Linked DNA regions of Homo sapiens: region 2 is linked to region 1. The links come from fine-mapping of genetic effects on gene expression. A gene starts in region 1. The other region holds a variant in brackets. All regions are shown on one strand. Distances are between the middles of the regions.

Evidence for each region.
Region 2: its variant is fine-mapped to the expression of LEAP2 in whole blood (TOPMed, PIP 0.99).

The regions. Positions count from the first base shown.
Region 1 is chr5:132,871,400-132,876,764 of GRCh38, forward strand. LEAP2 (liver enriched antimicrobial peptide 2) reads left to right here and starts at 2,269. Exons shown (of 3, transcript NM_052971.3): 1 at 2,269-2,352; 2 at 2,551-2,690; 3 at 3,011-3,647. The coding sequence starts at 2,296. The coding sequence ends at 3,047. AFF4 (ALF transcription elongation factor 4) reads right to left here. Exons shown (of 21, transcript NM_014423.4): 21 at 3,996-5,365.
Region 2 is chr5:132,980,454-132,985,831 of GRCh38, forward strand. No RefSeq gene overlaps it. Among named protein-coding and RNA genes, the nearest start is that of AFF4-DT, 19 kb to the left of the region's middle. The variant A/G (reference allele first, on the strand shown) is at 3,305.

The DNA.
Region 1 (5,365 bases):
TTACGGCTGCAACTGTTAAAGGCTACTTAGGCCTTTCTATTGGATGAAGGAGCATGCAGTTACGTGTATATTCACTGAGCAAAATACTTGATTGTAGAATCCATGAAATTTTTTTTTTTTTAATTTCAAGAAGAGGCCTTCACAGTCTCTCAAGTATGGGATGGCTGTGGACAAATACTGCCAATTCAGCTAACTGCTGCCTGGATGTTGCTTTGAGTTTGATTTTTGCTCCATACTTAACTAAAACAACTAGCATTCACGTAGACATGTTAAAATACTTTCCCCTTCCCCAACAGTGGTTCCTTCCACAGACAGTGACTAATGGTTTTTTCTTTTGGGGAGAGGGTGGCATACAACATAGAGGCTTGAACCAAAGGCCTCTGCAATGTTGTCACACTCATGAGGATGAATGGTCCTTTCCGCCTACACACAGAGGGGCAAGGGCTTCAAGCTCTTTCTTTCCTTGACTGTGTTATCAGCTTTACAAATTAACACCATGCTAGTTTGATCCTGCTAGAAGTACAGGAAGGCAGAAATGGAGGATTAGGAGAATTACTCATCTTTTGGATGAACAGTTTCCAAATCCCATTTGGCACATCACTCTAGACTGGTAAAGGGGAGGCTGACACTGAGGCCACAGACCCAACTGGCTCTAGGACATCACGTTGTTCAGTCCTTTGCTTATCTAATCATTTGTGTTCTTACCCAGTGCTCACTAGGTCACCCACATAGCCACTTCCCCTCCCAGCAAAAGTTCCCAGTTTAGGCACCTGTCTGGGATCATCCAGTATCCAAGCTTAGGGGTGAAGGGAGGGAGCAGAGAACTAGTCTCAACTGGTTCGTTGGTATATAGGTCTCTTCTCAATGTTCCTAAAGTGCATGCAGTGGCATCCCCCTCAAGGCCTGGCTCCATGATTCTGAGAGGACTAGAATCAGGACAGTCAGATCTGTGGTCACATCCTGCCCAATTCCAGCTCTGAGGTCCATCAAACCATCTGCTTCTCCCTTGGCAAGAAGCTCCCTCTGTCTGACTGGCAGCAGGGTCAGTGGCCATCCTTTTCTACCTTCAGCTGTTGTGCATCTCCTCCACGTTTTCCTGGAGTAAAGGAACAAGCAGGTTCTTATCCAAATACCCAACCTGTGAAGATGAGACGGCCCTTGGGAAGAGGTATTAGCCAAGTTTTCAGTATGATGCCCGGCAGAAAGAATTTGTTGTCTTTGTCTTAAGCTTATTATCCTCCCAGGTCATAGGAAGATCTAAAGTCCAATCAGTCTCCTTACTCAGAATTCACAGCTTTCCCCTCAAACTTAAAATGCCCATGTCATTTCACGAGTACCCATAACTACCCATCGTTTAGATACATGTCCTCCCTTGGTCTAGAAATCTGCAGCAGTTCCTACTTAAACTGATGGATGCTTTGGGCTTTGGAGGTATCTCATCCCTATGCCTGTTGCCCTGAAGCTGCCGGAAGGAAAGGCCCCACTCAACTACTGGGAAGAAAGCCCATAATTCAAGGCTTTTAATACAGTCACTACACAAGCTCTCCCTCTGATTTAGGAGATCTTGTTACCTCCTCATCTACATGTGCTTAAAAACAAAAAGAAACCTATAATTATTCAATTCACCTGTGGTCCAAATAAGTCTCACATCCAGCCATTCCCCTGAGAGGGCAGGAGGCCAGACTTTGAACTTTCCACAGCTGGGTCTTCATTTTACTAGTGAGATAAAGAGGTGCAGATTAGGGTGACAGTCCATCTAAGCAAGTGGACGATCTGGGGAACTGTAGGCCTTGCTGAAGCATCCTCCCACAGAAAGGAGATAAGGGCCTTATCCAATTGGCTGTACACAATAGATCAGTGCTTCTTTCCTAGACAAGGCTGAAAGGGGCCAACATTATTTCTGAAGACTTCATTATTGGAATTCTATGGGAGTGATCTCACTGAGCTATTTTGGAATAGAAATGTGGCTAGTTGCCTGACCTCCCTCAATGGTTTCACGTGGCTTTCAAAGGGAAGGAAGGGCAGTGCTGACTTTTGGTAAAATGGGCGAAAGGGTCCATGCCAGCAACACAATCACTCAAAGTCCAGATGAGGGATCAGTAAATACAACGTGCCTGAAAGGTGGCCCTTGAGCACATTCCTCCGGTAGACATTAACTTATTAAATTGATTCTGATTACAAATATAAACTTTGCCCCCATCTCACCCAGTAACAATGCAAGAGTTGATGTCAGTCTATAAAAGGAAGTAGGAACTGTCCCTGGCTTTCAGGCTCCAACATCCTCCCCCTGTCAAGATGTGGCACCTCAAACTTTGTGCAGTCCTCATGATCTTCCTGTTGCTGTTGGGCCAGGTAAGGAGGGAAGGATACTTATGTGTGTGTGTGGAGTGTGGAGATGATAGTGGTGGTGGAACTTGAAAGCTAGATTCAGTCCTGAGGAATGGTTCCTCTGTTCTGAGTCTACAGCATCTGCGGAATGGAATGATCACTCTTCCAAGGTGTGCAGCAGGGTGTCAACACTTTCATATCTGAATGTCTTTGCCCTTACAGATAGATGGCTCCCCAATACCAGAAGTGAGTTCGGCAAAGAGAAGGCCACGGAGAATGACCCCATTTTGGAGAGGGGTTTCCCTCAGGCCTATTGGAGCCTCCTGCCGGGATGATTCTGAGTGTATCACAAGGCTATGCAGGTACTCCCTGAACCTGGGAGCAGGGTTGGGCCAGAGAGCCCTGGGAAGCTGGGCAGAGGAGTGACAAGGGGACACATGAACCTAAGAATAAAGCTGGGATGGAGGAGTTCTAGACTGAGACTGGGAGCTCCATGGAAAATCCCTTAGGAGTTAGGAGCCAAGAACAGCTCTATGTGGGTACCATGAAAGAGTGGTGCCTTTCCATTCTTCAGTCTTTCCTGAGACTGGACAGATCAAGCAAAGAGGAAGGAAATGCAGCATAGGTGGCCCTGGTCATTCCTAGACCCAGTCTTAAAAAACTACCCTTTCTTTTCCCCTAGAAAAAGACGCTGTTCCTTAAGTGTGGCCCAGGAATGATGTACATACCAGGGAAAGAAAGGACAGCAGTCACCTCCGACAATGCTCCGTTCTATGGAATATTGATTAACTGCATTTTGGCTGGAGACACCCAAGTGAAGCAATCTTGTATTTTTAATATTTAAAGGCAGATGTACGCTTTAAATTGGTCTCCATTTCTTCTTAGAATGTTGATATATGGATAAGCATAACTAAACTTGTCAATTTAGAGTTTATTTTTCTATGGATACTATTAAATGTCTCAAATTGAAATTTTAGCAGTCTGGAATTCAAGCTTTTGAGGGAAAGAAGGATTCATTTTGTATACTAAAGAAAAAAACAGCATTGCCCAATAATGTGTTAACTTCTCAATCTGGAAAGTGTAGTGAGAGCTACATAATCAATAGCTACGTAATCAACTTCAGCAAGTTCCTAAGCTGTGGCCCTGGATCCCTTCACTCCATACTCTTCAGGGAGGTGTCAAAGGTGGTCAAGCTTGGGAGGCTGAGGCAGGAGAATCACTTGAACCTGGGAGGTGGAGGTTGCAGTGAGCCAAGATCATGCCACTGCACCCCAGCCTGGGTGACATAGAGAGACTCTGTCTCAAAAAAAAAAAAAAAAAAAAAAGATGGTCAAGCACTTGCCATCTAATGAAGCACCCAGGTTTGTCTATGGCTGTCTGAAGATAAGGCAGAACAGAGAGAAAAATCTAGTTTAATAAAGCAATGAAAGCCCAAGCCACCAAAAGCACCAAAAGAGATTTAAGATTTCTGTTGGGACAAGGTGAATTTTGACATATGCACAAGGACCCATGGCCAGCAAGTTCAGAATTTCTGTAATCAGAAAATGAGACCTCAGCTGGTGGGAACAGACTTTTAAAGAGTAGTAACGGACCTTAAGACACAAAACAGGAATTGCATGAAAAGGGCTCAGAGTTGAAGAAATATAAAGAGTACAGTGTTCAGTAACTTTAATACAGAAAATCTATTTGATATTTATTAAACTTAGTTTCTCCAACTATGGTTTGGCATTGTACAAAGCATCTTAATGACACAGTAGAGTTAAAAAGATCTTTACAAATTGAAATGTGATACCCTTGTCTCCAAATATTTTAATTGCCATAAATTTGTTTAAAAATACACATTAAACGCATGTTTGACACTCTAAACTTTCTATACTCTCAATACCACAAAATACATATAATATACTATACAGATGTGGAAAAATCTAGTTAGTATATAATACTTTGCTCACCATTAACAGCTTTATCGTGTGAAATGCACATACTGACTTAGAAATCCTAGCTTTTGAGCCCCAAAGTACCTCTGAAATTGTAATGTATTGCAACAAATAAAAATCACAGTATATAATTGAAATTCTGGTTGAAAATGTCAGATGCCTAAATATTTTGGATAAAAGAAATGTAAAACAAAGATTTGGTTCATGTACAAAACAAAGGCATCCTTATCAGTCACTAACAGTACCTTTCTGCAAAATCAACAGGCTTTTAATTTATCAGTGACATTATCTCCCCTCCAAAACCCTCCCCAAATATCAAACAATTATATACCAAATAATTTTAATTTCAAATAAAAGGATTTTCAATAAATATATAAGCATTTCCATCCTCCATATACAAAATTTCTTAAAACCATTCAAAACGGAGGCTAGATAGAAATTTTCATAACTGTGCTTACCAACCCCACAACTGGCCCTTAAAGGTGGTGCCTTTTCAGGCAATGTCAACTGGCCAGTTCTGTTGGTGAGCCCCCTACCCCCACCCCACCCATCCCAGTACTGTTGAATGCTCATGTTAATGATTTGCCAGGTGTGTGCATAAAGTTGTAAAATGGGGACACTTCTGGAACACCAACAACAAACTCAACAATATGGATGATCATGGCATTGATTTGAAAGGCAGCATTTCCAAATTGATATTTTCCAGAGAGGAACATAGCAGGTAGAAAATTCCAATGGTTAAAAGCTGAAAAGAAGTCCCACATGGAAGCAGTAAGAGGTCAAAACTGAGTATCACTAGAGTTTCTGGGTGGGAGCTTTTTTATTTTTAAGAATGGCAAGTTATGTTTAGCTGAGTAACAGTGGCAAGGAGAGGTCAATGCTGACATTCCTGAAAGTCAACTTCTTTACATGATGACTACTTAGGCTGCTATTTTAGGATACTTAAAGATCTCTAAGACTTGGATTAGACTTAACTTGAATACCTTATTCTGTGACCAAATTACATGAAAAGAAGATACATAGTTATTATTTCCATTCCCTTTTCTGGAGACAGCAAGTTCTTTCTAATTAACCATAGGGTTCATGTGAATAGGAGCTTT
Region 2 (5,378 bases), 110 kb after region 1:
TAATGACTGCTAATGGGTACAGGGTTTTGTTGTTGTTGTTGTTTTTGTTTTGAAACAGAGTTTTGCTCTTGTCGCCCAGGCTAGAGTGCAATGGTGCAATCTCAACTCGCTGCAACCTCCGCCTCCAGGGTTCAAACGATTCTCCTGCCTCAGCCTCCCGAGTAGCTGGGATTACAGACATCCACCATCACGCCCAGCTAATTTTTGTATTTTTTAGTAGAGACAGGGTTTCTCCATGTTGGTCAGGTGATCCACCCGCCTTGGACTCCCAAAGTGCTGGGATTACAGGCATGAGGCACTGCGCCCAGCTAGGGTTTCTTTTCATGGTGATCAGAATATTCTAAGATTTATTCTGGTGGGCCAGGCACGTTGGCGTACACCTGTCATCGCAGCGCTTTGGGAGGCCAATGCAGAAGGATCCCTTGAGCCCAAGAGTTCCCGAGCAGCGTGAGCAATACAGCAAGACACTATTGCTACAAAAAAAAAAAAAAAAATTAGGCCAGGCACGGTGGCTCACACCTGTAATCCCAGCACTTTGGGAGGCCGAGGTGGGTGGATCACCTGAGGTAACGAGTTCAAGACCAGCCTGACCAACATGGTTAAACCCCATCTCTACTAAAAATACAAAATTAGCCATGCATGGTGGCACATGCCTGTAATCCCAGCTACTTGGGAGGCTGGGGAAGGAGAACTGTTTGAACCCAGGAGGCAGAGGTTGCAATGAGCCAAGATCACGCCATTGTACTCCAGCCTGGGCAACAAGAGCGAAACTCTGTCTCAAAAAAAAAAAAAAAATTAGTCGGGCATGGTGGTGCGTGCCTGTGATCCCAGCTACATAGGAGGCTAGGGTAGAAGATCTCCTGGGCTTAGGGAGGTCGCAGCTGCAGTGAGCCATGATCATGCCACTGCACTCCAGCCTGGGCAACAGAACGAGTCCTTGTGAGTGTTTCAAGAGACAAAGCAGAAGCTGTAATGCCTCTTATGACCTCACCTCTGAAGTCACACACTGTTATTCTTGTACTATTCTATTGGTCACATAGGTTATCTCTGATTCCATATGGAAAGGGACTATATAAGGTCATAAGTAACTGGAAATTATTATCATTGGGAACCATCTTAAAGGCTGGTTATCACAATCCAAACCATAATTTTAAGCAATTTACACAGGAAAAAAATGTTAATGAACACTAAAGTCTGATTTTTAAAATATTGACTCAATTTTATTTCCAGTTCGTATCTATATGTATACCCTACATATACATTGCTCACTGTTTGAAGTTTATTCCCTTTAGGTGTATAAATTTATTTGCTTGTTTTTTCTTTTTATTTTGAGACGGAGTCTTGCTTTGTCACCCAGGCTGGAGAGCAGTGGCACAATCTCGGCTCACTGCCACTTCCGCCTCCCAGGTTCAAGCGATTCTCCTGCTTCAGCCTCCAGAGTACTTGGGATTACAGGTGTGCGCCACCACGCCCAGCTGATTTTTTTATTTTTAGTAGAGACAGGTTTTCACCATGTTGGCCAGGATGGTCTCAAACTCCTGACCTCAAGTGACTCACCCACCTCAGCCTCCCAAAGTGCTGGGATTATAGAAGTGAGCCACCACACCTGGCCTGTTTGTTTGTTGTTTGTGTTTTTTGTTTGTTTTTGTTTTTTGAGACGGAGTCCCACTCGGTTGCCCAGGCTGGAGTGCAGTGGTGCGATCTCAGCTCACTGCAACCCGTGCTTCCTGGGTTCAAGGGATTCTCCTGCCTCAGCCTCCCGAGTACCTGGGACTGCAGGCGCACGCCACCACGCCCAGCTAATTTTTGTATTTTTAGTAGAGACAGGTTTTCACCAAGTTGGCCAGGATGGTCTCGATCTCTTAACCTTGTGACCTGCCCGCCTCAGCCTCCCAAAGTGCTAGGATTACAGATGTGAGCCACAGTACCTGGCCTTGTTTTTTTTTTTTTTTTTTTTTATTGATCATTCTTGGGTGTTTCTCGGAGAGGGGGATTTGGCAGGGTCATGGGACAATAGTGGAGGGAAGGTCAGCAGATAAACAAGTGAACAAAGGTCTCTGGTTTTCCTAGGCAGAGGACCCTGCGGCCTTCCGCAGTGTTTGTGTCCCTGGGTACTTGAGATTAGGGAGTGGTGATGACTCTTAAGGAGCATGCTGCCTTCAAGCATCTGTTTAACAAAGCACATCTTGGACCGCCCTTAATCCATTTAACCCTGAGTGGACACAGCACATGTTTCAGAGAGCACAGGGTTGGGGGTAAGGTCATAGATCAACAGGATCCCAAGGCAGAAGAATTTTTCTTAGTGCAGAACAAAATGAAAAGTCTCCCATGTCTACTTCTTGCTACACAGACACAGCAACCATCCGATTTCTCAATCTTTTCCCCACCTTTCCCCCTTTTCTATTCCACAAAACCGCCATTGTCATCATGGCCCGTTCTCAATGAGCTGTTGGGTACACTTCCCAGACGGGGTGGTGGCCGGGCAGAGGGGCTCCTCACTTCCCAGTAGGGGCGGCCGGGCAGAGGCGCCCCTCACCTCCCAGACAGGGCGGCTGGCCGGGCGGGGGGGCTGACCCCCCCACCTCCCTCTCGGAAGGGGCGGCTGGCCTGGCGGGGGCTGACCCCCACCTCCCTCCTGGACGGGGTGGCTGCCGGGCTGAGACGCTCCTCACTTCCCAGACGGGGTGGCTGCCCGGCGGAGGGGCTCCTCACTTCTCAGACAGGGCGGCTGCCGGGCGGAGGGGCTCCTCACTTCTCAGACGGGGCGGCCGGGCAGAGGCGCTCCTCACCTCCCAGACGGGGTCGCAGCCAGGCAGAGGCGCTCCTCACATCCCAGACGGGGCGGCGGGGCAGAGGCGCTCTCCACATCTCAGACAATGGGCGGCCGGGCAGAGACGCTCCTCACTTCCTAGATGGGATGGCGGCCGGGAAGAGGCGCTCCTCACTTCCTAGATGGGATGGCGGGCGGGCAGAGACGCTCCTCACTTTCCAGACTGGGCAGCCAGGCAGAGGGGCTCCTCACATCCCAGACGATGGGCGGCCAGGCAGAGACGCTCCTCACTTCCCAGATGGGGTGGCAGCCGGGCAGAGGCTGCAATCTCGGCACTTTGGGAGGCCAAGGCAGGCGGCTGGGAGGTGGAGGTTGTAGCGAGCCGAGATCACGCCACTGCACTCCAGCCTGGGCACCATTGAGCACTGAGTGAACGAGACTCTGTCTGCAATCCCGGCACCTCGGGAGGCCGAGGCTGGCGGACCACTCGCGGTTAGGAGCTGGAGACCAGCCCGGCCAACACAGCAAAACTCC[A/G]TCTCCACCAAAAAAATACGAAAACCAGTCAGGCGTGGCGGCGCGCGCCTGCAATCGCAGGCACTGGGCAGGCTGAGGCAGGAGAATCAGGCAGGGAGGGTGCAGTGAGCCGAGATGGCAGCAGTACAGTCCAGCTTCGGCTCAGCATCAGAGGGAGACCGTGGAAAGAGAGGGAGAGGGAGACCGTGGGGGGGGGGGGGAGAGGGGGAGGGGAAGAGGGAGCGGGAGAGGGACGTTTTTTAAGACAGAGTCTCACGCTGTCACCCAGGCTGGTGTGCAGTGGCACAATCTCCACTCACTGCCACTTTAACCTCCTGGGCTCAAGGAATCCTCCCACCTCAGCCTCCAGAGTAGCTGGGACTACAGGCATGCGCCACCATATCTGGCTAATTTTTGCATTTTTTGTAGAGATGGGGTTTCTTTCACCTTTTTGCCCAGACTGGGCAAAATCTCAGCCTCCCAAAGTGCCGGGATTATATGCGTGAGCCATGGCGCCCACCCCCATCTGTTTATTCTTAAGTGAACCTTGGTAGTTTGTCTTTCAAGGAATTTGTCCATTCATCTAATTTATTTATTTAATTTTTAAAGAGACAGGGTCTTGCTCTGTTGTTCAGGCTGGAGTGCAGTGGTGCAAACACAGTTCACTTCAGCCTCAGACTCCTTGGCTCAAGCAATCCTCCCACCTCAGCCTCCCAAGTAGCTGGGACTATGCACCACTAAGCCCGGCTAATTTAAAAAAATTTTTTTCTAGAGACAAGGGTCTCACTATGTTGTGCAGGCTAGTCTCCAATTGCTGGCCTAAAGCAATTCTCCAGCCTCAGCCTTCCAAAGTGCTGGGATTATAGGTGTAAGCCACAGCACTCTGCCTATCTAATTTATTAAATGAGTAAAGTTGTTCATACTGTACTCTTAGTGTTCTTTTAATATCTGGGAATGTGTTGTAATAGCACCTCTCTCATTCCTAATGTTGGTAATTTGTGTCCTCTTTTTTATCCTGGGCAGTCTGGTTAGAGGTTTATCAATTTTATTAATCTTCTCATAGAACCATCTTTTGGATTCACTGAATGTATTGTTTTTTCATTTTCTATTACATTGATTTCTGCTCTGATCTTTATTTTTCTTTCCTTTCTTATATTTCTTTCTTCTGCTTATTTTGGGATTTTTTGCTCTTGTTTTCCTAGTTTCTTAAGATGAAAGCTGAAGTCATTGATTTGAGACTTTTCCCCTAATATAAATTTCCCCTACGTATTACTTCAGCAGCATTTCGCAAATATTAATATGTTTTGTTTTCATCTTCATTCAGTTAAAATGTCTTCTAATTTTCCTTTTGATTTCCTCTTTGAGCATGGATTATATGGAAGCATCTTGTGGCCGGGCACAGTGGCTCACGCCTGTAATCCCAGCACTTTGGGAGGCCAAGGCAGGTGGATCACGAGGTCAGGAAATCGAGACCGTCCTGTCCAACATGGTGAAACCTCATCTCCACTAAAATACAAAAAAATTAGCCAGGTGTGGTGGCGAACACCTGTAGTCCTAGCTACTCAGGAGGCTGAGGCAGGGGAATCGCTTGAACCCAGGAGGCAGAGGTTGCAGTGAACCAAGATTGCGCCATTGCACTCCAGCCTGGTGACAGAGCAAGACCCCATCTCAAAAAAAAAAAAGAAGTGTCTTGTTTAGTTCCATATAGTGGGGGACTTTCCAGAGATGTTTCTGTTATTGATTTCTAATTTAATTCCACCATGGTCGAAGAATATATCTTGTATGACTTGAACATTTTCATATTTATTGAGACTTGTTTTATAGCATAGAATGTGGACTACCTTGGTAAATATACATTACTAAATATTCTGGGTACACTTTAAAAAGAATGTATATTCTGCTATTGTTGGGTGGAGTAGTTCTGTAAGTGGCAATTATGTCAAGTGGGTTTATTGTGTTGTTCAAATCTGCTGTGTCTTCACTGATTTTTTTTGTCTATTGTTCTATTAGTTATTGAGTATGAGTATTGAGATCTCTCACTATAATTGTGAATTTGTCTATTTCTCATTTTATTTCTATCAGTTTTGCTTTATGC